3 linked regions of the Homo sapiens genome follow. Each later gene encodes a partner of the first gene's protein in a complex. Each region holds a gene or a part of one and is shown in the gene's direction. Other genes may lie near its edges.

Region 1 (11,083 bases):
CTTAATCTGTTTACATTCAGGGTTATTACTGATATGTGAAGACTTACTCTTTTCATTTTGTTAATTATTTTCTGTTTTTGTGTATTCTTTGTTCCTTTCTTCCTCTCTTAATGTTTATTATTGCAGTTTGGTGGTTTTCTGTAGTACAGTGGTTTGATTATTTTATCTTTCTCCTTTGTGTACCTGCTCTACTAGTGAATTTTATACTTTTACATATTTTCATAATAGTGTCTGTTATCTTTTTGCTTTCAGGTATAGGACTTTTTTGAGCACTTCTTGTAAGGCTGATCTAGTGGTGATGAATTCCCACCATTTAAAAAGAAAAAGTCTGGGAAAGACTTTATTTCTCCCTCATTTCTGAAGGATAGCTTTGCTGGGTATTCTTGGCAGGCATTTTTCTTTTTTCAGTGCTTCTCAAATATATCATTTCATTCTCTTCTGGCCTGTAAGATTTTTTCAAATAAATCTGCTGTTATCTAATAAAGATTTCCATATATGGGATGTAATACTTTTACTTTGCAGTTTTTATTTTTAATTTTCTTTTGATAAGGGTCTCACTCTGTCAGCCAGGCTGGAGTGTGGTGGTGTGATCACAGTTTGCTGCAGCCTTGACTTCCTGGGTTCAAGTGATGCCCTCACCTCAGCCTCTCGAGTTCTGGGACTACAGGCGCATGGTACCATGCCCAGCTAATTTTTGTATTTTTTGTAGAGATGGGGTTTCGTTATGTTGGCCAAACTGTTCTCAAACTCCTGGGCTCAAGCAATCTGCCTGCCTTGACTTCCCAAAGTGCTGGGACTATGTGCGTGAGCCACCGTACCTGTTCTCTCTTGCTATTTTTAGAATTCTGTCTTTGAATTTTGACAATTTGTAAGTCACAAAGTTTATGGTAACATACAGGAGAGGTGCTTGATTTAGATTGTTGTCATCAGGGAAGGGTTCCTAGAAGTCCTAAGTGAACTCAGCCTTGAAGGACAATGATTATATATTAGCAAGATAAATGAATTAGGACATTATTATAAATGAAGCAGATAAAAGTGTATAATCAGATGAAGTACTTTCCAGTATTTGAACTGTGTCTTAAGAATAGCTTCCCTTTGGGAGGCTGAGGTGGGCGGATCACCTGAGGTCAGGAGTTTGAGACCAGCCTGGCCAACATGGTGAAACCCTGTCTCTACTAAAAATACAAAAAATTAACCGGGTGTGGTGATGGGTACCTGTAATCCCAGCTACCCGGGAGGCTGAGGCAGGAGAATTGCTTGAACCCAGGAGGTGGAAGTTGCAGTGAGCCGAGAGAGCACCGCTGTACCCCAGCCTGGGCAACTGAGTGAAAACTCCAATCTCAGAAAAAAAAAAAAAAAAGAAGAGCTTCCCTGGTCAGTAGGTTACAGAGCATTTTATTAATAGATAGAGGGAGCAGCAATATGTGCAAAGGCACTCCAGGTCAAAAGAGTATATAATTCACTGGGGAATTGCAAGTGCTATAGTTGGGTATTTCTGATAACTACCAGGAATAAATAGATACACATGATAAGGTTTAAATATATAGCTCTTGAGTAGAAGTGTTGAGAAATGAAGTTTGGAAGGAAGGGAGTAGCCAGATTCTAAGAGTTTGGACTTTATGTTGTATGTAAATGCTTGTTTTATCTCATCATGATTGTATAGATTAAAAATTTTAATTAGAAAAAAGAAACATAGTCAAAGCATGAAGTTTAATGAAAAAAGTATACCAATTTTGAGGAAAGACAAAATATTTGCTACTATGTTTTTAGCCTAATTGAAATGTGTTGAAATCTGAATTTATGCCTACATTGAGAATGACAAATAATATTCAAATTTCTTTTGTACCTTTAGCAGCCTGGAAGTTTTTCTAGCTGGTCTGGTAGTTTCCTCATGGATGATAACATGTCTAATACTCTAAATAGCCTTGACGAGCACACTAGTGAGTTTTACAGTATGGATGAAAATCAGCCTGTGTCTGCTCAGCAGAATTCACCCACAAAGTTCCTGGCCGTGGAGGCAAACGCTGTGTTATCCTCTTTGCAGACCATCCCAGAATTTGCAGAGACTCTAGAACTTATTGAATCTGTAAGTAAAAAATTGTAAGATTATCAAAAGTTCAATTTTAGTTATATGATTTCATGCTCAGAAACTCAGTTTTGGACATTGACCAGTTTTATGTTTTGTATGCCATGCTTAATTTTGTTCTGATATTTTGCAGTGGCTTCTAGGGGAAAAAAGTTTAAATTTTTCTCAAGTATGTGCCTTGTGAGGAATTTTTAAAAATTAAAAACTTAATTCATTTTTTATTATATAAGTTATACAAGTGCATTAGAGAAAGCTGGAAACTAGAGAAAACTATAAAAAAGAAAATTAAAGTCCTTCATAAACCCAGAGTTAATAATTTGATGTATTCCTTTCAGTCTGTGTTCTATACTCAGAAAACATTATATTTTTAAACCCAAAAATACACTTCTGTATTATATTTGTGGATTTTTTTTTGTTTTCCACCCTGTCATGAGCATGTTTCTGTTTCCTTTTTTAAACTTGATTTTTTTTTTTTTAAGATGGCATCTCACTCTGTCGCCCAGGCTGGAGTGTAGTGGTGCAATCTCAGTTCACTGCAACCTGTGCCTCCTGGGTTCAAGCGATTCTCCTGCCTCAGCCTTCTGAGTAGCTGGGATTACAGGTGCCTGCCACCACACCCAGCTAATTTTTATATTTTTAGTGGAGATGGGGTTTCATCATGTTGGCCAGGCTGGTCTTGAACTCCTGACCTCAAGTGATCCTCCCACCTCGGCCTCCCAAAGTGCTGGGATTACAGGCATGAGCCACCATGCCTGGCCTAAATTTGAATTTTAGGGGCTTTGTAGTATTCCATCAAATGAATATAAGAAAATATATTTACCCAACTATTATTATTGGACATTTAGGTAGTGTCTACTTTTTCATTTTTTTAAAAAAAATTTTTTTTTAATTTTTTTATTATTATTATACTTTAAGTTTTAGGGTACATGTGCACAATATGCAGGTTAGTTACATATGTATACGTGTGCCATGCTGGTGTGCTGCACCCATTAACTCGTCATTTAGCATTAGGTATATCTCCTAATGCTATCCCTCCCCACTCCCCCCATCCCACAACAGTCCCCAGAGTGTGATGTTCCCCTTCCTGTGTCCATATGTTCTCATTGTTCAATTCCCATTTATGAGTGAGAACATGCAGTGTTTGGTTTTCTGTCCTTGCGATAGTTTACTGAGAATGATGATTTCCAATTTCATCCATGTCCCTACAAAGGACATGAACTCATCCTTTTTTATGGCTGCATAGTATTCCATGGTATATATGTGCCACATTTTCTTAATCCAGTCTATCATTGTTGGACATTTGGGTTGGTTCCAAGTCTTTGCTATTGTGAATAGTGCCTCAATAAACATATGTGTGCATGTGTCTTTATAGCAGCATGATTTATAGTCCTTTGGGTATATACCCAGTAATGGGATGGCTGGGTCAAATGGTATTTCTATTCTAGATCCCTGAGGAATCGCCACACTGACTTCCGCAATAGTTGAACTAGTTTACAGTCCCACCAACAGTGTAAAAGTGTTCCTATTTCTCCACATCCTCTCCAGCACCTGTTGTTTCCTGACTTTTTAATGATTGCCATTCTAACTGGTGTGAGATGGTATCTCATTGTGGTTTTGATTTGCATTTCTCTGATGGCCAGTGATGATGAGCATTTTTTCAAGTGTCTTTTGGCTGCATAAATGTCTTCTTTTGAGAAGTGTCTGTTGATATCCTTTGCCCACTTTTTGATAGGGTTGTTTGTTTTTTTCTTGTAAATTTGTTTGAGTTCATTGTAGATTCTGGATATTAGCCCTTTGTCAGATGAGTAGGTTGCGAAAATTTTCTCCCATTTTGTAGGTTGCCTGTTCACTCTGATGGTAGTTTCTTTTGCTGTGCAGAAGCTCTTTAGTTTAATTAGATCCCATTTGTCAATTTTGTCTTTTGTTGCCATTGCTTTTGGTGTTTTAGACATGAAGTCCTTGTCCATGCCTATGTCCTGAATGGTAATGCCTAGGTTTTCTTCTCGGGTTTTTATGGTTTTAGGTCTAACGTTTAAGTCTTTAATCCATCTTGAATTAATTTTTGTATAAGGTGTAAGGAAGGGATCCAGTTTCAGCTTTCTGCATATGGCTAGCCAGTTTTCCCAGCACCATTTATTAAATAGGGAATCCTTTCCCCATTGCTTGTTTTTCTCATGTTTGTCAAAGATCAGATAGTTGTAGATAACGCGGCATTATTTCTGAGGGCTCTGTTCTGTTCCATTGATCTATATCTCTGTTTTGGTACCAGTACCATGCTGTTTTGGTTACTGTAGCCTTGTAGTATAGTTTGAAATCAGGTAGCATGATGCCTCCAGCTTTGTTCTTTTGGCTTAGGATTGACTTGGTGATGTGGGCTCTTTTTTGGTTCCATATGAACTTTAAAGTAGTTTTTTCCAATTCTGTGAAGAAAGTCATTGGTAGCTTGATGGGGATGGCACTGAATCTATAAATTACCTTGGGCAGTATGGCCATTTTCACGATATTGATTCTTCCTACCCATGAGCATGGAATGTTCTTCCATTTGTTTGTATCCTCTTTTATTTCATTGAGCAGTAGTTTGTAGTTCTCCTTGAAGAGGTCCTTCACGTCCCTTGTAAGCTGGATTCCTAAGTATTTTATTCTCTTTGAAGCAATTGTGAATGGGAGTTCACTCATGATTTGGCTCTCTGTTTGTCTGTTATTGGTGTATAAGAATGCTTGTGATTTTTGTACATTGATTTTGTATCCTGAGACTTTGCTGAAGTTGCTTATCAGCTTAAGGAGATTTTGGGCTGAGACAATGGGGTTTTCTAGATATACAATCATGTCATCTGCAAACAGGGACAATTTGACTTCCTCTTTTCCTAATTGAATACCCTTTATTTCCTTCTCCTGCCTGATTGCCCTGGCCAGAACTTCCAACACTATGTTGAATAGGAGTGGTGAGAGAGGGCATCCCTGTCTTGTGCCAGTTTTCAAAGGGAATGCTTCCAGTTTTCGCCCATTCAGTATGATATTGGCTGTGGGTTTGTCATAGATAGCTCTTATTATTTTGAGATACGTCCCATCAATACCTAATTTATTGAGAGTTTTTAGCATGAAGGGTTGTTGAATTTTGTCAAAGGCCTTTTCCGCATCTATTGAGATAATCATGTGGTTTTTGTCTTTGGTTTTGTTTATATGCTGGATTACATTTATTGATTTGCGTATATTGAACCAGCCTTGCATCCCAGGGATGAAGCCTGCTTGATCATGGTGGATAAGCTTAGTGTCTACTTTTTCAGTACTACAGATAACATATAAAGCTTTGTGCAAAATCATGATTATGTCTTTAGGTTAAATTGAATTTCTGGATCAAAGTATATCACCATTTTTAACACGTTCCATACACATTACCAAATGATTATGCAGAATTTGATGGTGTCTTCCTGATGTGCAGTAGAATGTGAAGTTTTATGACGAAATATACTTTTTGATAATAACTTAATTTTTGATAATAACTTATCATTTGTTCTTAAAGTACTTTGACAGTAAGCTTCAACTACTGAATTAGATGAACTATTATGTATTTTGGAATCATAGGAAAGCCATAATCTGTTCCTCTTAAATGGTCTTGCTTAAAAAAAATGTCCAAGGAAAGCATTTTTACTGATAAAATGAGTTGTTAATTAACTCTGTGGAAATCATCATCCTGTGTTCAAGAGCAGATTTAACTAGGTTACAGCATTAACTTTATTAACAGTTTAATTTATTGCAGGATCCTGTAGCATGGAGTGACGTTACCAGTTTTGATATTTCTGATGCTGCTGCTTCTCCTATCAAATCCACCCCAGTTAAATTAATGAGAATTCAGCACAATGAAGGAGCCATGGAATGCCAATTTAACGTCAGTCTTGTACTTGAAGGGAAAAAAAACACTTGTAATGGTGGCAACAGTGAAGCTGTTCCTTTAACATCCCCAAATATAGCCAAGTTTAGCACTCCACCAGCCATCCTCAGAAAGAAGAGAAAAATGCGAGTGGGTCATTCCCCAGGCAGCGAACTTAGGGATGGCTCATTGAACGATGGTGGTAATATGGCGCTAAAACATACACCACTGAAAACACTACCATTTTCTCCTTCACAGGTAGTGGTGTTCATTTTGTTTATGTTTCTAAATGTCAATGAGTTACATTAAATTAGATCTTTAACATCCTTACTAGCAGTTGGTAGCTTTGATAACATATAAAAATAATGTGTTTAAATGTATACTTGAGAATACTGAACTCTGAGAGAATAGAAAGTATCTCACAAAATGTAGTAGCTGCAAATATTTATTTATTTATTTATTTATTTATATTTTGGAGACAGGGACTCACTTTGTTGCCGAGGTTGGAGTGCAGTGGCACAAACACGGCTCACCGCAACCTCAACCACCGAGGCTCAAGTGATCTTCCCGCCTCAGCCCCCCAAGTAGCCTGGACTATAGATGCGTGCCACCACACCTAGCTAATTTTTGTATTTTTTGTAGAGATGGGGTTTTACCATGTTGCCCAAGCTGGTCTTGAACTCCTGAGCTCAAGTAATCCACCTGCCTTGGCTCCCAAAGTGTTGGGATTACAGGCGTGAGCCACTGCTCCCGGTTCTACATGATATTATACTACAGTTTTTAGAGGGACATTTTCTTTATCTTGTAGTCCCATATCTTTATAGAACTCATCAGAAAACAAGCCCGGAAAGGTAACATTGATTTGCCCAAAGTTATCTAATGCAAGGCTGAGACTAAGATCCGGTTTCCTGACTGACTACTGTTCGATAGATATACCTGATAAAGATTAAAGTGGCCTTACCTATTTAGAGTAATTTGTTTAGTTTGCCCACTGAGGTTTTTCCTTTTAATGTTCTTTGGAAGAAACTTAGATAATTGCTTACTGTAAGAATTTAATGTGTCAAGAGGTTTCCTAAGGATGTCTAGAACTACCTACTTACTTTCTCCTCTTGTAATATCCCTGGACAGTAGATGTTTATGTTAGGACAGTTTCCTATTGAACACTTGCTATGCTCCAGGCTGTTTGCCAAACGCTTTTTTTTTTTTCTTTGAGATGGAGTTTTGCTCTTGTTGCCCAGGCTGGGGTGCAATGGCACCATCTCGGCTCACCGCAACCTCCGCCTCCCGGGTTCAAGTGATTCTCCTGGCTCAGCCTCCCGAGTAGCTGGGATTACAGGCATGTGCCACCACGCCCGGCTAATTTTGTATTTTTAGTAAAGACAGAGTTTCTCCATGTTGGTCAGGCTGGTCTTGAACTCCCAACCTTAGGTGATCTGCCCGCCTCGGCCTCCCAAAGTGCTGGGATTACAGGCGTGAGCCACTGCTCCCAGCCTCCAAACAATCTTCTTATAGCATCTCAGTTAATGCTCTTTCAAAAGGAGTTAGGTGGAATAAAATTCTGAAGTTGAGCCACTTGTCAAAGGCAACAGTTAGTAAGAGATGAAGCTGATGTTTTCTGAAAGTGTTTGGCAGAGGCTACAAAGTTTAAGGAGGAAGAAGGGAGTTTAATGGTCAAACAAACATGGAGAATGCTGGGATATTATTGGAGGTATATTTTGAGGCTGGGGAGATAAGCAGGATCTGGCAGAACACAGATCTCTAAAAATTGTGCACCCATGCTTCAGGGGATGCCATTTCTGTAGACTACAATGTGAATAGTCTGTTCACTCCCAGCCCTGCTCTCAGAGTTAAAAAGCACTGGAGAAAGTGAAGTAGGCTTGGGCATACTAGCAGTTTTCTATTCTGGAGTTTTGCATGCTAGCAATTTTTGTTGAAGTGTGAATTCTAAGGTAGAAGTGGCTGAAAGATGCTTATTTCCCATGGCAAACTGCTTGGATTTTATCGTGTAAAAGAGGGTTTGATTACTAATCTTAGGGTAAAATAAATTCAAGTATTCAGAGCCAGAAGTGACAGAGCTAGACTTCATTCTAGTTATAAGTAGCTTTGAAGCCATTTCTATGGCTTCATATCACTGTTTCTAATCTTTTGACTGCAAAAATAAATTAGTATTTCACAATTGTAAATTATATAATTTAGAAAATGGACTCTGTTATGCCAGTTTTGACTGCTTAGAGGTTCTGTTCTGTGTTCTAGATAGGCAAATTTGCCAGACAGCTGTATTTCTTATCAGCAAAGCATTATTATTATATTCTAAATTAAAATACTCTCATAGAAAAAGCCACTTAAGGTCATTTATTAATAAGAGCTAAAAAACTTGTTTTTTCAGTTACACACTGTTGTACAAAACTGTTACATTTAACACAGCAGCTGTTTATGGTTTCTATAGATCTCTATTTGATAATATACTGTTTTTTAAATTTTTAGTATTTTTTTTGTAACTTTTGAATATTTGTTAAATGTTTCTTGAATTCCTATATGTGCTAAACACTGTTCTAAGAGCTGGGGAGACAAAAATGAACAAACCAGACAAAAATTCCTACCCTCATGGAGCATAATTTCCATGGAGTATAAGTGTAATATTATTCATAAGCTTTTTTTAAGAGGTATGAAGAAATAATTTGAAAATCTTATCAGTTTAATATTTGTGTAGGGATTTTGATGTTCTAGAAGTCGTCTTTAAACTCTCTTCCCTTTCTAGTTTTTCAACACATGTCCTGGTAATGAACAACTTAATATAGAAAATCCTTCATTTACATCAACCCCTATTTGTGGGCAGAAAGCTCTCATTACAACTCCTCTTCATAAGGAAACAACTCCCAAAGATCAAAAGGAAAATGTAGGGTAAGTAGGTATTAAATAATTGTGTTAGAGAAAATGGGGAGCACAGTGTTAAAGTAGATTAGCTTTTTGTGCATATAAATAGCAAGTATCATAATTCCTATTCCTACAGGACTTAGAATTTTTTTTGTTTTGTTTTGTTTTGTTTGTTTGAGATGGAATTTTGCTCTCGTTGCCCAGGCTGGAATGCAATGGTGAGATCTCGGCTCACTGCAACCTCTGCCTCCCGGGTTCAAGTGATTCTCCTGCCTCAGCCACCCGAGTAGCTGGGATTACAGGCATGTGCCACCATGCCTGGTTAATATTGTGTATGTAGTAGAGATGGGGTTTCACTATGTTGGCCAGGCTGGTCTTGGACTTCTGACCTCAGGTGATCTGCCCATCTCAGCCTCCCAAAGTGCTGGGATTATAGGTGTGAGCCACTGTGGCCGGCCAGAATTTTTTTTTTAAATCATAACCTTATGTTTTCTCCTTAGGACAGTGAAAACCAACTGAAATATAGTGTCAAACTTTGATTTCAATCATTTCTAGTACTTTTTCAAACATTTCTAGTACTTTTTTCTATATTAATTCTTTTTTTCTATTTTAAGATGATTGATTGAAATCAGAATTACCATAGGTGGGCATACTTTAAAATAGTCTTAGAATGTTTAAATGAAGCATATATATATGTGTAAGAAAATTTAGCGTGTGCTTAAATTGCTTTGCTTTCATTAACTTGTATGAAATCAGATCGTGACTATAACATAAATATCTAAATGACTGGATAGGTTTAGAACACCTACTATTAGAAGATCTATACTGGGTACCACACCAAGAACTCCTACTCCTTTTAAGAATGCGCTTGCTGCTCAGGAGAAAAAATATGGACCTCTTAAAATTGTGGTATGTATATTCATTTTATTTTTAATAATTTTCCTAATTTTAATAAAACACAAATTATGATTTTTATCACTTTGATTTTTAACATTTAAAAAAAGATATTTACTGAAACAGATACAAAGCTTTATCTTTTGATTTTCAAGGTTTTTTTTTTGTTTTTTTTTTGAGACGGAGTCTTACTTTGTCGCCCAGGCTAGAGTGAAGTGGCGCGATCTCAGCTCACTGTAACCTCCACCCCCTGGGTTCAAGTGATCCTCATGCCTCAGCCTCCTTAGTAGCTGGTATTACAGGTGCCCGCCACCACACCCAGCTAATTTTTGTATTTTTAGTAGAGATGGGGTTTCACCACATTGGCCAGCCTGGTCTTGAACTCCTGACCTCAGGTGATCCACCCCCCTCCCCCCCACCTCGGCCTCCCAAAGTGCTAGGATTACAAGCGTGAGCCACCACACCTGGCCTAATTTTCAAGTTTGAATTTGTGTTCACCTTTTTCTTTAACTTGTAAATAAACCCTTGCTTGGCTTGTTTTGAATTCTTAACTTTATAGCATCTAGAGAAAACATCAGGTGTCAGTGGAACTCTTTTCCTTTTTCCTTTTTTTTTTTTTTGAGACGCAGTCTTGCTCTGTCACCAGGATGGAGTGCAGTGGCTCATTCTTGGCTCACTGCAACCTCCGCCTCCTGGGTTCAGGTGATTCTCCCCCAGCCTCCTGAGTAGCTTGGACTACAGGCTTGCGCCACCACGCCCAGCTAATTTTTGTATTTTTAGTAGAAATGGGGTTTCACCATGTTGGCCAGGATGGTCTCGATCTCCTGACCTCGTGATCCACCCACCTTCGGCCTCCCAAAGTGCTGGGATTACAGGAGTGAGCCACTGCGCCCTGTCGGAACACTTTTCTTAATACTGAAATATACATTTTAGTAGTTTCAGTCATGGTTACATGTATTAGAATAAAATAATTTTAATATTTTGATATACTGAAGCACTTTCATGATAATATTTAGGAAACTAATCAGGGTACCTCTTTAGGAAACTAATTAGGAAAAGGCTCAGTTTCCTTTTCTATGCAAAGGAGATCATAAAACACACCCCAAATTGTTATTGTGAAGCTGAAAGAGATGATGTAATTAAAGGGGCTTGTCTGAGTTTCAAGTACTGTGTGCTTGGTTGCTGCTATTATTCTAATAATAGTATTTGTGGTAGTAGTTCACGAATGAATAGGACTGGGAAGTGTTCTAGTTACTGTGCTTTCATATATCTTACCACCTTTGAAATACCTTGGAACAGTGATGGGCATTTTAGGCAGATACAGATTTCTGACAAGTTCTTTAGAAATACGATTTTTAAAA
Region 2 (11,083 bases), on another chromosome or scaffold:
AATGGAATTCTTTAAGCTCTTTTATGAGAATAACTTGGGAGAGCTAAGTATTCTTAAGTGTTTTAAATACTATTTTCTGTAAATAACTTGTTCATCCTTCTTTTGTTTTTTAAAAAGCAAAGCCAGTGGTTGTTAATACAACCCCAGTGCGGATGTCAGTTCCAATTGTCTCAGCTCAGGCTGTCAAACAAGTAAGTATCACATAACTTCTTTCTCAGTCTTTCCCAAATAGACGATTTACTTTTTAAATAGAAAGTTAAGATTTAGGTGCAAGAGATTTATACTGAATTGAACAGCTGTAAAATTTATTTTGTGGTCATTGATATATGTCCCTTCTTTTTAGGTTGTTCCAAAACCAATCAATCCAACTTCACAAATAGTAACTACTAGCCAGCCACAGCAACGGCTTATCATGCCTGCCACACCACTGCCACAGATCCAGCCCAACCTCACTAACCTGCCACCAGGCACTGTCCTGGCACCAGCTCCGGGAACAGGGAATGTGGGTTATGCAGTGCTTCCAGCTCAGTATGTTACTCAGGTATGTGGAAAAAATGAAGTCATTGTATTGCAAAAGTGATAATGGGGTCCAAGATGTCTAGTGCTATCACAGAAGCTACTCAAACACATCTAACTCAGTATTGAAGTGGCACTTTCCAAAATCTTAAAATGTTAACCCAAACCTTTAAGTTTATTTCTATGTACTTTTAGCATTTAGAAATATATAACACAGGTCAGATATACAAGTCAGACAATTTGGAGCTGAGAGCAGCTTGGCAGGAGCGCAAGCCTGTGGCGATATGATAGAAAATAGACTGAAGTTAAAATCAGCAGAGTCCAAATGAATTTAGAAAAGACTGTGGCTGTTATAAAGCTCTTCCTCACACATAAATTTGATGCCACTGACTTGGAAAATAAGCCCAAGTTTATTTATTGGAAAATAAACTGTGAGATGCATTTCCAGGTGACATATCTTCAGCGATCTATCTACTCTTACTGGTCATCTTTAGAATGAAAGACGGGGAAACAAACCCACACGTGTACTTTTTAATGAAATACACTTTGGAACATGTTATGTGGCTATTGATAAAAAGAATAATGTTCAGTATTTTTGTCATAAGCATTTCTAATGTTTAGAAGTTGGTGTAAAATAGAAACTCAACTATTGTGCATGTAACTTCTCATTCTCTGTAATTTGTAGTGTGATAAATGATCAGTATAGTACCTATTTTATTTGTAAGTAGGCACATTGCATTTTTCTAGCCCAAACAAGTTATTACAGTACTTTGAGAGCATTCATCTAGCATTTCCTATCATTCCGACATACTTAACTCTTCTGTGAAATACTTTCTTTATATTTGTACTATGTAGTACTGTAAAATGTTCACATTATTTTCACCTATAGTATTGGTTTGAGTCTTTAAAAGAGCTCTGTGAAGTATGTGTTTGTGTGATATTCTCCATTGTGTTTTTCTTATCTTAATGGATGAATTTGTATTTCTTACTGATCATCATACCTGACAGTATTGTCCATTTTTGGAAATATGATCTAAAATTAATTTTCTTTACATGTAGCTACAGCAGTCTTCATATGTATCAATAGCAAGCAACTCTACCTTTACTGGAACATCTGGTATCCAGACCCAGGCACGGCTTCCATTCAATGGGTGAGTATTTTGAAAATAGGTACATAAGTTGTTAGATCAGCTTAAATGCAACAGTAAATATATATATTCCAAACTACATCCTCTTTTATTTTTTTCCCCTTAAAGCCATGTGAGCATGCCTCTAAAATACTTGTTGAAATATTTCAAACAGAAAAATTACAGAAATAGTCAATTCCCAAATACTCTATTCAGATTCACCAATTTCACTACACTAGTTTTATTATTCTCTTTCATTCTGAGTATGTTTCCAAAATGATGATGCTAACTATTTTTTATCTTTATTTTTCAAGACAAGGTCTTGCTCTGTTGCCCAGGCTGGAGTGCAGTGCTGTGATCTCAGCTCACTGCAACCTCCCAGGCTCAAGCAATCCTCCTGCCTCAGCCTCCTGAGTAGCTGGAACTCTATGCACATGCCACCATGCTCTCCTAATTTTTAAATTTTTTTGTAGAGATGCGGTCTCACTATATTGCCCAGGCTAATCTCCACCTCCTGGGCTCAAGTGATCCTCCTGGCTCAGTCTCCCAGAGTGCTGGGATTCCAGGCTTAAGCCACTGCACCTGCCCAACTATTTTTAAAATTATGTGAGGTCCTCATTTTTTGTTGATGTTTATTTGTTTATCTATTAATTACTGGCTTTTGCAATATCAGCTTAGAAGCCGTGCTTAATTACCCGGAATCAGTCCACATCCCACTTCCATTTCCTCCTCCACACACTCCTTTTCCTCACTGCTTTTTATAATTGAATCCCAAGAGTTTTGAGGCAATCTCAACTTTTGTTTTCTTAGAAGGGACAGTGTTTGTGGAGTGTTCTTTAGCAGCTATTGATAACTTCTTTTAAAAAAATTATTCCATACTTGTCTCTACCTCTTTCATGTTACAACTTGCCTTTGAACCTAGTGTAAATAGAACAACGTAGCAAACTTTTTATTTTAGATGGACACATTTAACATTGGTTAAAGCTTTATTTCTGGAGGGATTTATAGATTGGAGACTTCTCTAATTTTAAATTAGTTTTAGGTCTAATTTTTTAAATTTTAAATTAGTTGTAGCAACTAAATTAATTTTAGTTACTATTAATTGATTAAATGTATATCTTTTTTTCTATCTGTACAGCATAATCCCATCAGAGTCGGCCAGTCGGCCCCGAAAGCCCTGTAATTGTACAAAATCACTGTGTTTGAAATTGTAAGTGTTTTTGCAACTGTTTGCTTATTTAATGTAATTAGAAATGCACTTAAAAGTAAATGGAGTTAACTAAAAATTTTTAGCAGACCAAAGCTCATAAGTCTAAGTAATTTAAATAAACATACAAATGAATGTTTGAACATATATGGCAGTGTAAAAATATTATTTCATTCATCTAGAAAGAAATATTTAGAGTCCTTACCATACATGAATCACTGGAGTAGGGGTTAGGGACATAGCAGCATGAGACAGACATAGCTTCTGCCCTTAATAATAATGTTTGATCTTATTTATGACTTTTGTATTTGGTCTCCTAAGTGATGATACTCTAGGTAGTTTTAAAAGTCACTGAATGGTTAATTTGCTTATTAGCATTAAAAAGACTTGACATGAAATAGTTAAATGAAAAGCATTGGTCTTATTGGGGCATAGAATCCAAAGTACTATTACTATAACTCAGATGAGCCAGTTCAACTATTAGAATATAGCTAGTGTTTTTCCTTTTTCAGAATTTTGAAATGCCTTACTTTGGGGGCACATAAAATTTATATGTGTGACATATAATTTATATAATTTATATGTGTGACAGCTCTTGTGTGACAGCTGTTATTGGTTGGACTAAGTTTTTAGGCCACATTTCTAGTACTTGGTGATTTAAACTTTGAGCCTTAGTATGTGGTTGACAATATGTGTTGTTAACTCTTTAACTGGGTAGCTGAGTAGATTTCTGAGATGCTTTACCACATATGTAGTATGTGTACAATATATATACAATGTATGCATAATCAGATAATTAGTTTTCCTTAATAATGACTTTTTACCTTATACTGACTTTTACCTTTCAGGTATTGTGATTGCTTTGCAAATGGTGAATTTTGCAACAACTGCAATTGTACTAATTGTTACAACAATTTGGAACATGAAAATGAAAGGCAAAAAGCAATAAAGGTGATTATTTTTTATTTCATTTAACTGACAGAAATATCCAGTTTCATCAGTTTTATAAAACTCAATTGTCTTGCAAAGAAACGTTATCAATTCCTTTTGCAGTGTTTAAATTTCATCTACTGTGATTTAACTCTAACTGATATTTGATCTGTTTTGCTAGGCATGCCTTGACAGAAATCCAGAAGCCTTTAAGCCTAAGATAGGGAAAGGAAAGGAGGGAGAATCTGATCGACGTCATAGCAAAGGGTGTAATTGCAAACGATCAGGATGTCTTAAAAACTACTGTGAATGCTATGAGGTGAGATGCTGGGTGCGGAAAATAATATCTTTTAAAAACAGTTTTAGAAAGGACCTACTACAAAAATTTACTTGAAAATTGGGAAATCACCTTGCTATTGCAATTTGAAAATATGCACAGTTGGTGCAAAGGCCCTTGTTTTAGGAAGGCCTTCGAGCCTCTGTAGCAGGGCTTCGGAGGAATACCTTGGGTTTATTATTACAGCTTGGGGTCTTACTGGGTGATTTACCATAACTTCTTGGTCATTATGCTCAGAAAGTATGCAGATCAGAACACCAATATATTGATTTTCAATAAAAATAATATCAAAGTGGATTGGAAACTCTCCAGCAGTGATTCTCACCTGAGGTGCAGTTCTACTTACTGTTCTTCACAGGCTTCTTAGAAATATATGGCCGGGTGCGGTGGCTCACACCTGTAATCCCAGCACTTTGGGAGGCAGAGGCGGGCAGATCACTTGAGGTCAGGAGTTCGAGACCTGCCTGGTCAACATGGTGAAACCCCGTCTGTACTAAAATACAAAAATTAGCCGGGCATGGTGGCAGGTGCCTGTAATCCCAGCTACTCGGGAGGCTGAGGCACGAGAATCGCTTGAACCCAGGAGGTGGAGATTGCAGTGAGCCGAGATCATGGCACTGCACTCCAGCTTGGGCAACAGAGCAAGACTCTGTCTCAAATATATAAATATATATTATAAATATATAAATATATATATATATATGGATACAAAATAGCCTGCATCCCAAGGTACAGTCTGGAAATTAAAGGATTATCTTGACCAAAATGCTGGTTATGCCCACTCAAAGAGCACACTGCTCTGCGGAAAACCAAAGTATGTTAAGTTTGCTTTGTGAGCATAAAAATAGGAAAGGGGGATCTGGCATTCTGCTGGATGAGGTTACTGGTCACGGTAGGCAATTGTCTCCATTTTCACTGTTTTGTTGTTCCACTGAGCTGGTTATTTTTACTTATGGGTCAGGCGTCTTCTCTGGAAGATGTAGTTGAAACTCTGCTCTGACAAATGCCATATAAATCTTCCCCTTCTTGCTTTAGACACAGTACTATATAGTTTTATTTTAGAAGCTTATGTGTAACAATCTAGTGATTGAGATTAACCCTAGATTACCATAATTGGTTTCTTGGTATGCCTGAAACTCTTTACTGACAGTCTTTTGGGTGGTTGAGTTATTCCTCTTCTTGGCTCTTCTCATACTCTCATATATTTTCATTCTTTCTTATTCTCAGAGAATTAATTAATTAATTAGTTTATTTATTTATTGGCAGAAAGCCTAGCTTTGCACTTGCTGAAGGTTTGCCCTGCCACAGGAGCATGTCCTCCAGTTCAGTGCCCTCTCCCATACAGCATGTGTCATATGAAAGATTTTGTGTATTGCATTCTCTGTGTAATGAATTCTTTCCTAATCTACTTATTTACAAAGTCAAATACTCCTCTCAGGAAGTAAAGTAGAATAGGGAATAGGAGAGTAACATCTTGTGAGTTCTGCAGATGATATGAATGAAAATTGCATAAAGAGACAAGTTTTTTGTTGTTGTTGTTGTTGTTATTTTGTTTTTGAGACGGAGTCTCGCCCTGTCGCCCAGGCTGGAGTGCAGTGGTGCGATCTTGGCTCACTGTAATATCCGTCTCCTGGGTTCAAGCGATTCTCCTGCCTCAGCTTCCCAAGTAGGTGGGATTACAGGCACCTGCCACCATGCCCAGGTAATTTTTGTATTTTTTGTTTTTAGTAGAGACAGGGTTTCACCACGTTGGCCCGGTTGCTCTCAAACTCAAGTGATCCGCCCACCCATCAGCCTCCCAAAATGTTGGGATTACAGGCATGAGCCACCGTCGCAAGTTGATTTTTTAAACTGTCTTAACATCTCAAAATCCAACAAGCCAGTTTTCATCCAGTGTTGGAATCTTTTTTAGTCTTTCTTCTTTTGAATACCTGATGAAATAGCCGGCTTGCGTTTAGAAGCCATATCATACAAAAATTGTCACGAATATGTAAAAATTAACACTTCTTTTCAGAACATGGAAATTTATGTAAAGTTGGATCAGAAGGGTAAAGCGACCCTTTCATGTATATGGCATTGAAAAATCAATACATGCTGGGCATATGAAATTCAGACATATAGGAACTAACCATTTAATTGAACTGGTTAACAACCTGTGAATTAATAGAAGTAGAAAAGGTACTGGACTGGTTTAAAAGTGTTAGAAGAGACAGCCCTACCCTACCTATTCTAATGAAATTTTGTCGGGACAGATACACTGTCTAGTAACAAATTTATCATTCCAAAAGTTATGTACCAAAAAATGGAGAAACTTAGAATATACTAAACTATGAATAGCAGTGGCTAGTTGGCTGTAAATTAGCTGTGGGCTTATCTGACATTTTGTGTTGAACTGTTCTTTTGACACCTTGTTCTTCAGCTGAATTGGCTTTTTAATCCTGTTGGTTTGCATCTGGACAACACATTCATGTGTCCTTTCAATGCCTATAGGCTTGTTGATTGGATGAATGGCTACCCACCTTATTTCATGGCTGTGTCTTTTCTTGTGACCATTTTCCTCCCCTCCACATCTTTTTTTTTTTTGGTATAGGGGAAGTTAAATTCGCCAAGCTAAATGTCATTGTAATTTCTCCATCTGAGCTCCGGTTAGACACTATTAATGTCTTTCCTATGGTTCTTAAAATATAAAGATAATTTTTAAAAAACAAATATATATATATATATAAAATCTAAATTACCATTATTGGTATGTTTTCCCCACTCTGAGGTCAGGAATTTTCTCTCGTCATCACTAGATGCTTATTAAGTATTGCTTTAGTTAGATTCCCATTCAGGCTCACAGTAACCCAGTTAACACAAACTTACATCCATTTTTTCCTTTGGTAAGTGGAATTTATTGGTGTCTTATAAGAAAGGAGCAGAGTAAATGTGTTTATAATGCAGCCCGTTTATCTTGCTAGGTGCTATAGAGAGAAAGGACAGTTTTATTTATTTATATAGACATGGGTTCATTGAAGAAAACACAGCTAACAAAAACATACTCAAATTCGTTAGAAATCAGGGAAATATACATTAAAGAACAGTGAAATCTCACTTTATCATCCCCACCATCAGATTATATATATATATATTTTTTTGAGATGGTGTTTCATTCTTATTGCCTAGGCTGGAGTGCAATCGCGTGATCGCGGCTCACTGCAACCTCCGCCTCCCGGGTTCAAGCGATTCTCCTGCCTCAGCCTCTCGAGTAGCTGAGATTACAGGCATGTGCCACCATGCCTGGCTAATTTTTTTTTTTTTTTTTTAAAGAGAGATGGGGTTTCTCCATGTTGGTCAGGCTGGTCTTGAACTCCGGACCTCAGGTGATCCTCCCACCTCGGCCTCCCAAAGTGCTGGGATTTCAGGCGTGAGCCACCGCGCCTGGCATAAAATGTTAAAAGGAATTATAATATTCATTGTTGGAGGGAATGTGGGAAAGCCTTCCTTTACACATTGCTGATGAGATGTGAGGTATTACAGCCTTTTGAAAAAGCAATCTGGCTACATCTCTTAAAATTCAAATACACAGGCCAGGCGCGGTGGCTCACATCTGTAATCCCAGCACTTTGGGAGGCCGAGGCGGGTGAATCACGAGGTCAGGAGGTCGGGACCATCCTGGCTAACACGGTGAAACCCCGTCTCTACTAAAAATACAAAAAAAATTAGCCGGGCGTGGTGGCGGGTGCCTGTAGTCCCAGCTACTCGGGAGGCTGAGGCAAGAGAATGGCGTGAACCTGGGAGGCGGAGCTTGCAGTGAGCTGAGATCGCGCCACTGCACTCCAGCCTGGGAGACAGAGCGAGACTCCATCTCAAAAAAAAAAAAAAAAAAAATTAAAATACACAGACCTGTTAACCAGTGAGCCCAATTCTAGAAATCTAACTCAGAGAAATAAAAAGGCATAATGTATAACAAAAAAGTCTTTTTATGCATCATTTGTGGTACCCAAGAACTGGAAACAAAAATAAACACCCATCAATAGGGAAATGAATGCCCAATAAAATTGACACATCATACCAGGGATTTACACCTAGCTGTTAAATAGAATGAATTCAAGCTATGCCAGATGACTTTGGAGGGATTCCATGAGTTGTAAGAAAAGCAAGATGCAGAAAAGCAGATAATATGATTTTGAAAAACTAAAAAATGAAAGTTCTATATTTGTATATACATAAGGTCTAGGATTTTATATATACTTACATTTGACATATTTTTACATGAAAATATATATTTATATGAAATGTAAAATACACACTAGTTTCATATGGGTTATTGAAGGGTTTGGGGAATCTGAAGTCCCTCCCGAACTCCCTCTTCAGATTAAAAATAGCATAATAGAATAATAAAAATGGCATCTGTGAAATCCCTTTAATGTGAAATTGTATACATATGCATAAATGGGAGGTCATCTATATGTTAATGATGATTTGATTGAGGTGGCTGGATTCTGGATGACCTTTATTTTTGATATTTTAGGATATCATTCATGTTTATGAAAAACATGTGTAACTCATATCTGAAGAAAATCTATATTCATAGTGGGGGAAAACTGACATGGAAGGACACAGCCACAAACGTTGTACAGCCACTGTCAGACTTAAGAATACCTAACCTAGCTAGCCACATGTGTAGTTACTGTTTGTCAGCCAGAGATACTTCCATCTAATCTTATTATCAGTTGACCAGGTAATGCTATTAGCTGTTGATTTGATTGTGGCATCTACTTATAGTAATGTATTTTGGTTTTGATTTGGAAACTTTTCTTATGTAAATCTTTTAGGCAAAAATAATGTGTTCCTCAATATGCAAATGTATTGGCTGTAAGAATTTTGAAGAAAGCCCGGAAAGGAAGACATTGATGCATTTGGCAGATGCAGCTGAAGTAAGGGTACAGCAACAAACAGCAGCCAAGACGAAGTTATCCTCTCAAATTTCAGACTTGCTTACTAGGCCAACACCAGCTTTAAATAGTGGAGGCGGAAAGTAAGTCAGTATTTTAATCTTTTTATAGTACTTCCCAAATACTTTTGGTAAAGTTTCTTTTCAGGGGGCAAAGTTGAGTTTATATTTTTGGTTGTTGCAAACCTGATTTTTGTGTTTTCTTTCCATCTTTAGTTACTTGTAAAGGAATTTAAAGGTAACAGAAACCACTGTCAGATTATTGTGCAGTTCGAAAATGCACAGTAATGATTTAGTCCACTGTGCTTAATTTCTGTCTACTAAGATGAGGTAATTATGTAATTTGAGGAACCCCAAAGAAAAGCAGATGTTCATATGTCTCGCTGAACGTGTAATTATGTTTTTGCATTTTCCTACCTTCTCTTGCCTTTTCCATTTCTTGGAGCACTTTTCCCATCCTATTGGACCACCCATCACACTGTAATAGTGCAGCTCCGTATTGTTATCTCTTTCATCTGCTGAGCTCTGGAGTAGAAAAGCCTGACCTCTAAAGTCAGGTAGACTTGAGTTTATACTATCTGTGCTACTTAGTAGTTTGTGAATCTCTTTGAGCCTCAGTTTTCTTATCCTTAAAATAGCCTATACCAGGTGGCTGTGAGGAATAAGGCATGTCTATAATATCTCCAGTGTTTGTCAAGACCTGATAAAACATAGTTTGTGATTTGGACTGGACTGGACTGGTATTAGAAAGTTTGTTAGAGGTTAATCTGAGGAATTATTAAATGGAATGAGCCTTGCAAATGGCATATTATTTAAAATGCCTAAGTAGGCCAGGCACAGTGGCTCACGCCTATAATCCCAGCACTTTGGGAGGCCAAGGTGGGCAGATCACCTGAGGTCAGGAGTTTGAGACTAGCCTGGCCAACATGGTGAAACCCCATCTCTACTAAAAATACAAAAAATTAGCTGGGCATGGTGGTGTGCGCCTGTAATCCCAGCTACTTGGGAGGCTGACGCAGGAGAATCGCTTGAGCCTGGGAGGCAGAGGTTGCAGTGAGCCAAGATCACGCAATTGCACTCCAGCTTGGGCAACAAGAGCAAACTCCGTCTCAAAAATAAAATGCCTAAACTGAAAATGAGATCCAGTGCTTATAAAAATAAGGCTTTTTTGTACAAAATATTTAAGATATTAGTTTTGGTTTTTTGTTTTGTTTTCTTTTTGAGATAGAGTCTCACTCTGTTGCCCAGGCTGGTGTGCAGTGTCATGATCTCAGCTCACTGCAATCTCCGCCTCCTGGGTTTAAGCAATTCTCCTGCCTCAGCCTCCTAAGTAGCTGGGATTACAGGCATACACCACGACGCCCAGCTAAATTTATGTATTTTTGGTAGAGATGAGGTCTCACTATGTTGGCCAGCCTGGTCTTGAACGCCTGACCTCAGGTGATCTGCCCATCTCAGTCTCCCAAAGTGCTGGGATTACAGGCATGAGCTACCATGCCTGGCCTTAAGATATTAGTTCTAAAGAACTCTTGACTGGAATATAAACAGCAAATGGTTTTTGACTGAATAAAGTGGAAGTGGTCAGGCACCTTAATAAGACTTATAACCTGGGATTCTTTCTGGTCTTTAGAGTATTGAATCTAATCTCCACATGGAGATTAAAGATACTGCTACAGTAAAATATTTATAATTAATTTTTAAAATTGGGAAGATGTTAACAATATGAAAACAAAATTATAAAATTATAATTATAATCAAAATTACATATTAAAAACTTGTATAAAAAAAGTTATGCTAGCATGTTAACAAGCTTGTTTCAAGTGACCAAAACCTTAAATTAATATTTTCTAGTTTAAAGTGCTTGTTTGTATGTTAAAGATTCCTATACAGCTGCATGGCAGCCTGAATTCTCAATTACCCTCTCTTGCCATAGTGAGCTTTAATTTCAGACTTCATTATTTAGTATACTTCTGTTAGTGACCGCTTACTCACAGGTTGTTGAGTTAGTGGTTTAGATTATGTTGCTTGAC
Region 3 (11,083 bases), on another chromosome or scaffold:
TTGACTTGCACAACCTACTTTTTTTTTTTTCTGGGCCATGTGTTTTCTCTTCATGGCTTGAATTTATCTTCACCTAATAAATAATTTACCTGTTTTTTTTTTCAGCTCGTGAATATATATTCATCTATTTTCTATATGGCATAATCATGTCCCTGTCTCTCTTTAAAAGTAGATATAAAAATAGTTTAATTGATCTATATTGCAGCTTCCTTTTCCATTTCATTGTTTAGCCTGTTATTTAGCTAAACTTTATCACTATCAGATTACTGTAATTAATCTTTAATGGCAGTGTCCATTCTCAGACAGCACCAGGAGAAAAATCAAATGCCTAGACCCCAGATTCTGTCACACTTGTGTACTGGCTCTGGATGTGTTTGTTATTTATTAGAACATCTTGTGCCTGTAACTAGTCTAGTCTAAGAGTAGACATGGTGTCTGTAGCGTTGTTCTGGCTGTGCAGTTGCAGTTTGAGCACTGTGGCCCTTACATTTGTTAATAAAAGGTTCAAGACTTACTAAACTCTTACTTTTCAGTTCTCTTCATTTCTAGGTGTTTAAAAAGGAAAGCTGAATTTTTGCAGTGTGTAATACTTCATATTCTCATTTTGTGATCATGTAATTCCTCCCACCCTGACTCTTGTGAATGTGTAGTCCAAGTGGCACATGGAAGTTTTTCTCTGGCAGCTAAAATTCTTAACTGTCTGAGCCGTGTGCCCTCAATATAACTGATGAAGTGGGATGTACTTCCTTGTCATCATCTTTTAAACTCTTATTGCAATATGTGTTATAATGGATCTCAGAAGAAACTAGAAGGCATAGATTGAGAGTTCTTTTAGATCATAGAATTTTAAATTGTAGTGGATTTTAAAGAGAATCAAATACACTCACCTCTTCATACTTAAATCCTTTCCGTTTTAATCTGGGATACATGACTCTAGGTGTGCGGCATGAATAGATATGAAAGTAGGCTTGTGAACTCTTGGAAATATTATGCAAAATTATGCATATTTGTATATTTTTTGGAGAGACTATTTATAGTGTCATAGTTTCTGAGGCAAAGATATTTGATCAATTCTTTTTTTTTTTTTTTTTGAGACAGGGTTTCTCTATGTTGCTCAGGCTTGTCTGGAACTCCTGGGCTCAAGTGATCCTCCCACCTCACCCTCCCAAGTAGCTGGGGTTATAGGCACACACCTCGCCATGTTTGGACAACTCTAATTTTTATAAAATTATTTCTTTCACTGAACTAGAAATTGTGTCCTCACTGTCTCTTCTGTATTGTGGGTTTTCAACTATTTGAAGATACTTATATTCCACTGAGTGTTAGAAAATATTCTCAGTCTTTAACCTCTGCTAGTGACTTTTGTGTCATTGTTTTCATTCACATCTCCTCACAGAACTCATAGCCCACTTGTGGATTTGTTTAGTTCATCCACATTCTTCTGACAAGCATGGTACCCCAAATTAGGTATTAACTAGTATAGAAGACTAAGTTACCTCTCTAATTTTAAAGCATGTACTTTAAGAGTAGACTTGCTTCTTTGGCAACCACATTACACTGTTACTTTATAATAATTTACTAGTTAAGAAGATTAACTTTGGGGCTAACCTTCCTGTGTTTAGATCCTAGCTCTGCAGTTTATCAGCTGGGTAACCCTGAGTAAGTTATGTAAACACTCTGGGCCTAAGTCTCCTCATCTCTAATATGGGGTTAATAATAGTGTCTATCTTACACAATTCTGAAGATAATTAATATATATATATAAGTCATTTAGAATGGGTTGTGGCATCCCAGTACTATGTATGTATGATACCTATTTTACTATTGGTTTCCTTGTCAACTAAAATTGTTGAATTATTTTGTTCATGCTCTCTCTGTTCTTAAAGTCATACTCTCTCAATTCTTTAATAGAATATTTTTTGGTAGGACTTTACATGTATCTATATTTTTATTTTGTAAGATTGCTTCTAGTCTGTTGACATTAAAAAAATCCTGATTTGGTCATCCAATAAATATCAAATCTATGCATTTGATAAACATACAAGTTTGATAATTTTGGCATTGCTTTCATGCAAATTTTTCACTAAAATGCTGTCTAGGCAGGGCTGAGGTCAGAGTTCTTTACCTGCTAAAGACCTCTCTTAAAGGTGATAAAAAATTTTATTATTAATTCTTTGGTTCAGGTTGGTCACCCAATTAGAAATTCAGCTAATTTTAATCATCATCTACCTCATATGTTTCCAAGTTCTCATAAGGAATATGTGAGGAACTTTGACAGTTGCCTTACTAAAACCCAGATTTTATATGCTTCGTTTTCTTTACCCTATCATTACTTGTCCTTAGTGAAACTATACTATATTCCAGTAGCATATGTTAATTACTACTTTTTTGTCTTTTTTTTCGGAAAAGGATTATTTATTTATTTATTTATTTATTTAGAGACAGAGTCTCTCTCTGTCACCCAGGCTGGAGTGCAGTGGCCTCCTGGATTCAAGCAATTCTCCTTCTCCAGCCTCCCGAGTTGCTGGGTCTGCAGGCGCTTGCCACCATACCCGGCTGATTTTTGTATGAGAAAAGGATTTTTTAATTCAAGTAAAAATGTGGAATGCTTTAAGAATTTGTGTGTCATCATTGCACAGGGGCCATGCTAATCTCTGATTTGTTCCCGTTTAGTATATGTGCTACTAAGGGAGCACTGATTACTACTTTTTCTAAGTGTTCACAAACTTCTCTTAGTAATGATGCTAGAATCATGTCTAAAATTACATCTAACTTCAGTGATCAATAGTTGGCAGGATCCCATTTCTCTTTTTTTGAACACGAGTACTACATTTTTCTGTCTTTAGTCTTCTGGCAACCTCTCCTGCTCACCATAGTTCCTAAATGATTGCCAACAGCTGTGTGGAATTTTATTTGGAGCAATATACCTTGTTGAAGGTTTACTTAGAGTAGTTAGGAACTGTCTTTTATCTTCATGTTCATATTGAGCTTTCATTTCCTCCAGTTCATTGATAAATTTATTAAATGCCCATTTTGCACAAGATATCAATGCTTGTTTTACTTGAGCCATCGGAAGAGAATTTTTCTTAATAAAAATGCCTGAAGCAAAAAGGTAATGTACATCTATTTCTCTCCATTCCTCCTATTGTTAATATTACCGTAGTCTGCCACCATTCCTTCTTTAGTGTACTGCAGTAATAGCTTCCTGTTAACCTTCCTTCTTCCAGTCCTTTTCTGTCTCTGGTCCTTATGTATGGCAGCCAAAGTTATCTTTGTTTTAAAAATGCATGTATGTTTTAAAAGTCGTTTCTGGGAGGTGCAGTGACTCACGCCTATAATCCCAGTGCTTTGGGAGGCCGAGGTGGGCGGATTGCTGAGCCCAGGAGCTCAAGACCAGCCTGGGCAACATGGTGAAACCTGTCTCTACTAAAAATACAAAAAGTAGTCAGGCTTGGTGGCATGTGCCTATAGTCCCAGGTACTCAGGAGGCTGAGGTGGGAGGATCTCTTGAGCCCAGGAAGTCAAGGCTGCATTGAGCTGTGATCGTGCCACTGCACTCCAGCCTGGGCAACAGAGTGAGACCCTATCTCTAAATAAATAAATAAATAAATAGGAATAAATAAATAACTAAGTATTTTCTTTCCTAGTGGCATAAGCTGTAATCTAATTAGAATTTGATTTCTGAGCATAGTACTTTCCAACTCCCTTTTTCTGTTTCCTCTTTACTGTCCTTTTAAATTCAAACCCCTCCACCCCTGCTGCCCCGCTTTTTTTTTTTTTGAGACAGAGCCTTGCTCTATTGCCCAGGCTGGCAGTGGTGCAATCTCGGCTCACTGCAACCTCCACCTCCTGGGTTCAAGTGATTCTTGTGCCTCAACCTCCCAAGTAGCTGGGATTATAGGCATGTGCCACCACACCTGGCTAATTTTTGTATTTTTAATAGAGACAGGGTTTTGCCATTTTGGCCAGGATGGTCTTGAACTCCTAACCTCAAGCAATCCACCTCTCTTGGCCTCCCAAAGTGCTGGGATTACAGATGTGAGCCATCGTGCCTGGCCATAGATCTCATTCTTTTTTATGGCCAAATAGTACTTCATTGTATGTATGTACCACATTTTCTTTATTCATTCATCTGTTAACGAACACTTAGGTTGCTTCCAAATCTTAGCTATTGTAAACAGTGCTGCAACAAACATAGGAATGCAGATATCTCTTCAATATACTGATTTCCTTTCTTTTGGCTATATACCCAGCAGTGGGATTGCTGGATCATATGGTAGCTCAATTTTTAGTGTTTTGAGGAACGTCCAAATTGTTCTCTGTAGTGGTTGTACTAATTTACGTTCCCATCAACAGTTTGAGAAGGTTCCCTTCTCTGCACATCCCCACCAGTATTTGTTACTGTCTGTCTTTTGGATATAAGCCATTTTAACTGGGGTGAAATGATAGCTCATTGTAGTTTTGATATGCATTTCTTCGATGATCAGCAATGTTGAGCACCTTTTCGAATGACTATTTGCCATTTGTATGTCTTCTATTGAGAAATGTCTATTCAGATCTTTTGCTCATTTTTTAATGGGATTATTTGATTTTTTTCCTAGAGTTGCTTGAGCTCTTTATATATTCTGGTTATAAATCTCTTGTCAGATAGGTAGTTTGCAAATGTTTTCTCCCATTCTTTGGGTTGTCTCTTCACTTTGTTGATTGTATCCTTTGCTGTGCAGAAACTTTTTACTTGATGTGATCCCATTTGTTTATTTTTGCTTTGGTTGCCTGTGCTTGTGGGGTACTGCTCAAGAAATTCTTGCCCAGACCAATGTCCTGGAGATTTTCCCCAATATTTTCTTCTAGTAGTTTCACAGTTTAAGGTCTTAGATTTAAGTCTTTAATCCATTTTGATTTGATTTTTTTTTTTAGACAGGGTCTTGCTCTGTTGCCCAGGCTGGAGTGCAGTGGCTTGATACCAGCTCACTGCAACCTCAGCCTCCCAGGTTCAAGCAGTTCTTGTGCCTCAGCCACCCAAGTAGCTGGGACTACAGGCATGTGCCACCATGCCTGGCTAATTTTTGTATTTTTAGTAGAGATGGGGTTTCACCATGTTGGCCAGACTGGTCTTGAACTCCTGACCTCAAGTGATCTGCTCGCCTTGGCCTCCCAAAGTGCTGGGATTACAGGCGTGAGCCACCTTGCCCAGGCTGATTTGATTTTTGTGTATGGCAAGTGATATGGGTCTGGTTTTTTTCTTCTGCATTTGCATATCCAGTTTTCCCAGCACCATCTATTGAAGAGACTGTCTTTTCCCCAGTGTGTGTTCTTGGCATCTTTGTGGAAAATGAGTTAACTGTAGGTGTGTGGATTTGTTTCTGGATTCTCTGTTCTGTCCATTGGTCTGTGTGTCTGTTTTTATTCCAGTCCCATGCTGTTTTGGTTACTATAGCTCTGTAGTATAATTGAAGTCAGGTAATGTGATTCCTCCAGTTTTGTTCTTTTTGCTCAAGATAGCTTTGGCTATTCTGGGTCTTTTGTGGTTCCATATAAATCTTAGGATGGTTTTTTCTATTTCTGTGAAGCATGTCATTGCCATTTTGATAGGGATTGCCTTGAATCTGTAGATTGCTTTGATAGCAGTATTGACATTTTAACAATATTGATTCTTTCAATCCATGAACATGGAATATTTTTCCATTTTTTTGGTGTCCTCTTCAATTTCTTTGATCAGTGTTTTATAGTTTTCATTACAGAGATCTTTCACTTCTTTGGTTATTACCTAGTTATTCAATTTTATGTGTGGCTGTTGTAAATGGAGTTACTTTTAAAATTTCTTTTTCACATTGTTCACTGTTGGCATATGGAAATGCTACTGATTTTTGTATGTTGATTTTGTATCATGTAACTTTACTGAATTTGTTTATCACTTCTATTAATAATACTTTTCTTGTGGAGTCTTTAGGTTTTTCCAAATATAAAATTGCATCATCTGCAAACAGGGATAATTTGACTTCTTCCTTTCCAATTTGGGTGCCCTTTATATCTTTCTGTTGTCTGATTGCTCTAGATAGGACTTCCAGTACTTTGTTGAATAACAGTAGTGACAGTGGGCATGCTTGTCATGTTTCAGATCTTTGAGGAAAGGCTTTCTAGTTTTTCCCCATTCAGTATGATACTAGCTGTGGGTCTGTCATATATGGCTTTTATTATGTTGGGGTGTGTTCCTTCTATCCCCAGTTTTTTGAGTATCTTAACTTCTTTGCAACATAAATATTTTATTTAAGACCTATATGTCCTTTTGCAACATATTTCATGCTCTTTTGACTTTTTTTTTTTCTTGAGACAGAGTCTTGCTCTGTCACCCAGGCTGGAGTGCAGTGGCATGATATCGGCTCACTGCAACCTCCGACTCCCGGGTTCAAGTGATTCTTGTGCCTCAGCCTCCCAAGTAGCTGGGATAACAGGTATGTGCCACCATGCCTGGCTAATATTTGTATTTTTAATAGAGACAGGGTTTTGCCATGTTAGCCAGGCTAGTCTTGAACTCCTGGCCTCAACTGATCTGCTGCCTCAGCCTCCCAAAGTGCTGGATTACAAACTTAACCCACCACACCTGGCCTATGTTCTTTTGACTTTAAAAGAAATTAAATAGATCTTCGTTCAAGATGGCCGAATAGGAACAGCTCCAGTCTGCAGCTCCCAGCGTGATTGATGCAGAAGATGGGTGATTTCTGCATTTCCAACTGAGGTACCTGGTTCATCTCATTGGGACTGGTTGGACCGTGGGTGCAGCCCACAGAGGGTGAGCCGAAGCAGGGAAGGGCGTCACTTCACCCAGGAAGCACAAGGGATCAGAAGATTTCCCTTTCCTAGTCAAGGGAAGCCGTGACAGACTGTACCTGGAAAAATGGGACGCTCTCGTCCAAATACTGGACTTTCCCCATGGTCTTAGCAACTGGCAGACCAGGAGATTCTCTCCCGTGCCTGGCTTGGCGGGCCCCACATCCGTGGAGCCTTGCTCACTGCTAGCGAAGTAGTCTGAGATGGACCTGTGAGGCTGCAGCCGGGTTGGGGGAGGGGTGTCCGCCATTGCTGAGGCTTGAGTAGGTAAACAAAGCGGCCAGGAAGCTCAAACTGGGCGGAGCCTACCTCAGCTCAGCAAGGCCTACTGCCTCTATAGACTCCACCTCTGTGGGCAGGGCATAGCAGAACAAAAGGCAGCAGAAACTTCTGCAGACTTAAACATCTCTGACAGCAGTGGTTCTCCCAGCATGGTGTTTGAGCTCTGAGAATGGACAGTCAGCCTCCTCAAGGGGTCCCTGACACCCGTGTAGCCTAACTGGGAGACACCTCCCAGTAGGGGGCGACAGACACCTCATACAGGTGGGTGCCCCCCTGGGACGAAGCTTCCAGAGGAAGGATCAGGCAGCAATAATTGCTGTTCTGAAATATTTGCTGTTCTGCAGCCTCTGCTGCTGATACCCAGGCAAACGGGGTCTGGAGTGGACCTCCAGCAAACTCCAACAGACCTGCAGCTGAAGGACCTGACTGTTAGAAGGAAAACTAACAAACAGAAAGGAATAGCATCAACATCAACAAAAAGGACATCCACACCAAAACCCCATCTGTAGGTCACCAACATCAAAGACCAAAGGTAGATAAAACCACAAAGATGGGGAGAAACCAGAGCAGAAAAGCTGAGAATTCTAAAAACCAGAGTGCCTCTTCTCCTCCAAAGGATTGCAGCTCCTCGTCAGCAACGGCATAAAGCTGGACGGAGAATGACTTTGATGAGTTGACAGAAGCAGGCTTCAGAAGGTTGGTAATAACAAACTTCTCTGAGCTAAAGAAGCATGTTCTAACCCATCGCAAGGAAGCTAAAAACCTTGAAAAAAGGTTATGGCTAACTAGAATAAACAGTGTAGAGGAGACCTTAAATGACCTGATGGAGCTGAAAACCATGGCATGAGAACTTCGTGAGGCATGCACAAGCTTCAAAGGCCGATTTGATCAAGTGGAAGAAAGGATATCAGTGATTAAAGATCAAATTAATGAAATAAAGCGAGAAGACAAGTTTAGCGAAAAAAGAGTAAAAAGAAATGAACAAAGCCTCCAGGAAATATGGGACTATGTGAAAAGACCAAATCTGTGTTTGATTGGTGTACCTGAAAGTGACGGGGACAATGGAACCAAGTTGGAAAACACTCTTCAGGGTATTATCCAGGAGAACTTCCCCAACCTAGCAAGGTAGGCCAACATTGAAATTCAGGAAATACAGAGAACACCACAAAGATACTCCTGAGAAGAGCAACCCCAAGATACATAACTGTCAGATTCACCAACGTTGAAATGAAAGAAAAAGTGTTAAGGACAGCCAGAGAGAAACATCAGGTTACCCAAAAAGGGAAGCCCATCAGACTAACAGCGGATCTCTCGGCAGAAACCCTACAAGCCAGAAGAGAGTGGGGGCCATTATTCAACATTCTTAAAGAAAATAATTTTCAACCCAGAATCTCATATCCAGCCAAACTAAGCTTCATAAGTGAAGGAGAAATAAAATCCTTTATAGACAGACAAATGCTGAGAGATTTTTTCACCACCAGGCCTGCCTTACAAGAACTCCTGAAGGAAGTGCTAAACGTAGAAAGGAACAATCGGTACCAGCCACTGCAAAAACATGCCAAATTTTAAAGACCATGAATGCTATGAAGAAACTGTATCAATTAACAGGCAAAATAACCAGCTAACATCATAATGACAGGATCAAATCCACACATAACAATATTAACCTTAAATGTAAATGGGCTAAATGCCCCCAATTAAAAGACACAGACTGGCAAATTGGATAAAGAGTCAAGACCCATCAGTGTGCTATATTCAGGAGACCCATCTCACATGCAGAGACACACATGGGCTCAAAATAAAGGGATGGTGGAAGATCTACCAAGCAGATGGAAAGCAAAAAAAAGCAGGGGTTGCAATCCTAGTCTCTGATAAAACAGACTTTAAACCAACAAAGATCAAAAGAGACAAAGAAGGCCATTACGCAGTGGTACAGGGATCAATTCAACAAGAAGAGCTAACTATCCTAAATGTATATGCACCCAATATAGGAGCACCCAGATTCATAAAGCAAGTCCTTAGAGACCTACAAAGAGACTTAGACTCCCACACAATAATAATGAGAGACTTTAACATCCCAATGTCAATATTAGATCAACGAGACAGAAGACTAACAAAGATATCCAGGACTTGAACTCAGTTCTGCACCAAGTGGACCTAGTAGACATCTACAGAACTCTCCACCCCGAATCAACAGAATATACATTCTTCTCAGCACCATATCACACTTATTCTAAAATTGACCACATAATTGGAAGTAAAGCACTCCTCAGCAAATGTAGAATAACAGAAATCACAACAAATTGTCTCTCAGACCACAGTGCAATCAAATTAGAACTCAGGATTAAGAAACTCACTCAAAACCTCACAATTACGTGGAAACTGAACAACCTCCTCCTGAATGACTACTGGGTACATAATGAAATGAAGGCAGAAATAAAGATGTTCTTTGAAACCAATGAGAACAAAGACACAATGTACCAGAATCTCTGGGACACATTTAAAGCAGTGTAGAGGGAAATTTATAGCACTAAATGCCCACAAGAGAAAGCAGGAAAGATCTAAAATTGACACCCTAACATCACAATTAAAAGAACTAGAGAAGCAAGAGCAAACACATTCAAAAGCTAGCGGAAGGCAAGAAATAACTAAGATCAGAGCAGAACTGAAGGAGATAGAGACACAAAAAACTCTTCAAAAAATCAATGAATCCAGGAGTTGGTTTTTTTGAAAAGATCAACAAAATTGATAGACCGCTAGCAAGACTAATAAAGAGGAGAGAAGAATCAAGTAGATGCAATAAAAAATGATAAAGGGGATATCACCACCAATCCCACAGAAATACAAACTACCATCAGAGAATACTATAAACACCTCTACGCAAATAAACTAGAAAATCTAGGAGAAATGGATAAATTCCTGGACACATACACCCTCCCAAGACTAAACCAGGAAGAAGTTGAATCTCTGAATAGACCAATATCAGGCTCTGAAATTGAGGCAATAATTAATAGCCTACCAACCAAAAAAATTCCAGGACCAGACAGATTCACAGCCAAATTCTACCAGAGGTACAAAGAGGAGCTGGTACCATTCCTTCTGAAACTATTCTAATCAATAGAAAAGGAAGGAATCCTCCCTAACTCATTTTATGAGGCCAGCATCATCCTGATACCAAAGCCTGGCAGAGACAGAAAAAGAGAATTTTATACCAATATCCCTGTTGAACATTGATACGAAAATCCTCAGTAAAATACTGGCAAATCCAATCCAGCAGCACATGAAAAAGCTTATCCAACACAGTCAAGTCGGCTTCATCCCTAGGATGCAAGGCTGGTTCAACATATGCAAATCAATAAAAGTAATCCATCACATAAACAGATCCAACGACAAAAACCACATGATTATGTCAATAGATGCAGAAAAGGCCTTTGACAAAATTCAACAGCCCTTCATGCTAAAAACTCTCAATAAACTAGGTATTGATGGAATGTATCTCAAAATAATAGCTATTTATGACAAACCCACAGCCAATATCATACTGAATGGGCAAAAACTGGAAGCATTCCCTTTGAAAACCAGCACAAGACAAGGATGCCCTCTCTCACCACTTCTATTCAACATAGTGTTGGAAGTTCTGGCCAGGGCAGTCAGGCAAGAGAAAGAAATAAAGGGTATTCAGTTAGGAAAAGAGGAAGTCAAATTGTCCCTGTTTGCAGATGATATGATTGTACATTTAGAAAACCCCATCGTCTCAGCCCAAAACCTCCTTAAGCTGATAAGCAACTTCAGCAAAGTCTCAGGATACAAAATCAATGTGCAGAAATCACAAGCATTCCTACACACCAATAACAGACAGAGAGCCAAATCACGAGTGAACTCCCAATCACTATTGGTACAAAGAGAGTAAAATACCTAGGAATCCAACTTACAAGGGATGTGAAGGACCTCTTCAAAGAGAACTATAAACTGC

What was found.
Region 2: MYBL1 (region 1) and LIN54 share a complex: the UniProt entries of both Homo sapiens proteins name them as parts of the DREAM complex.
Region 3: MYBL1 (region 1) and TFDP2 share a complex: the UniProt entries of both Homo sapiens proteins name them as parts of the DREAM complex.

The regions. Positions count from the first base shown.
Region 1 is NC_000008.11:66,571,136-66,582,218, reverse strand, and holds part of MYBL1 (myb-related protein A), read left to right. Parts: intron 1-1,852; coding exon 1,853-2,086; intron 2,087-5,828; coding exon of another isoform or gene 5,829-5,843; coding exon 5,844-6,212; intron 6,213-8,712; coding exon 8,713-8,855; intron 8,856-9,622; coding exon 9,623-9,737; intron 9,738-11,083. UniProt on the Homo sapiens protein: Transcription factor that specifically recognizes the sequence 5'-YAAC[GT]G-3'.
Region 2 is NC_000004.12:82,928,997-82,940,079, reverse strand, and holds part of LIN54 (protein lin-54 homolog), read left to right. Parts: intron 1-117; coding exon 118-191; intron 192-343; coding exon 344-541; intron 542-1,575; coding exon 1,576-1,667; intron 1,668-2,781; coding exon 2,782-2,853; intron 2,854-3,698; coding exon 3,699-3,801; intron 3,802-3,961; coding exon 3,962-4,099; intron 4,100-8,934; coding exon 8,935-9,137; intron 9,138-11,083. UniProt on the Homo sapiens protein: Component of the DREAM complex, a multiprotein complex that can both act as a transcription activator or repressor depending on the context. In G0 phase, the complex binds to more than 800 promoters and is required for repression of E2F target genes.
Region 3 is NC_000003.12:142,137,067-142,148,149, reverse strand, and holds part of TFDP2 (transcription factor Dp-2), read left to right. Parts: intron 1-11,083. UniProt on the Homo sapiens protein: Can stimulate E2F-dependent transcription.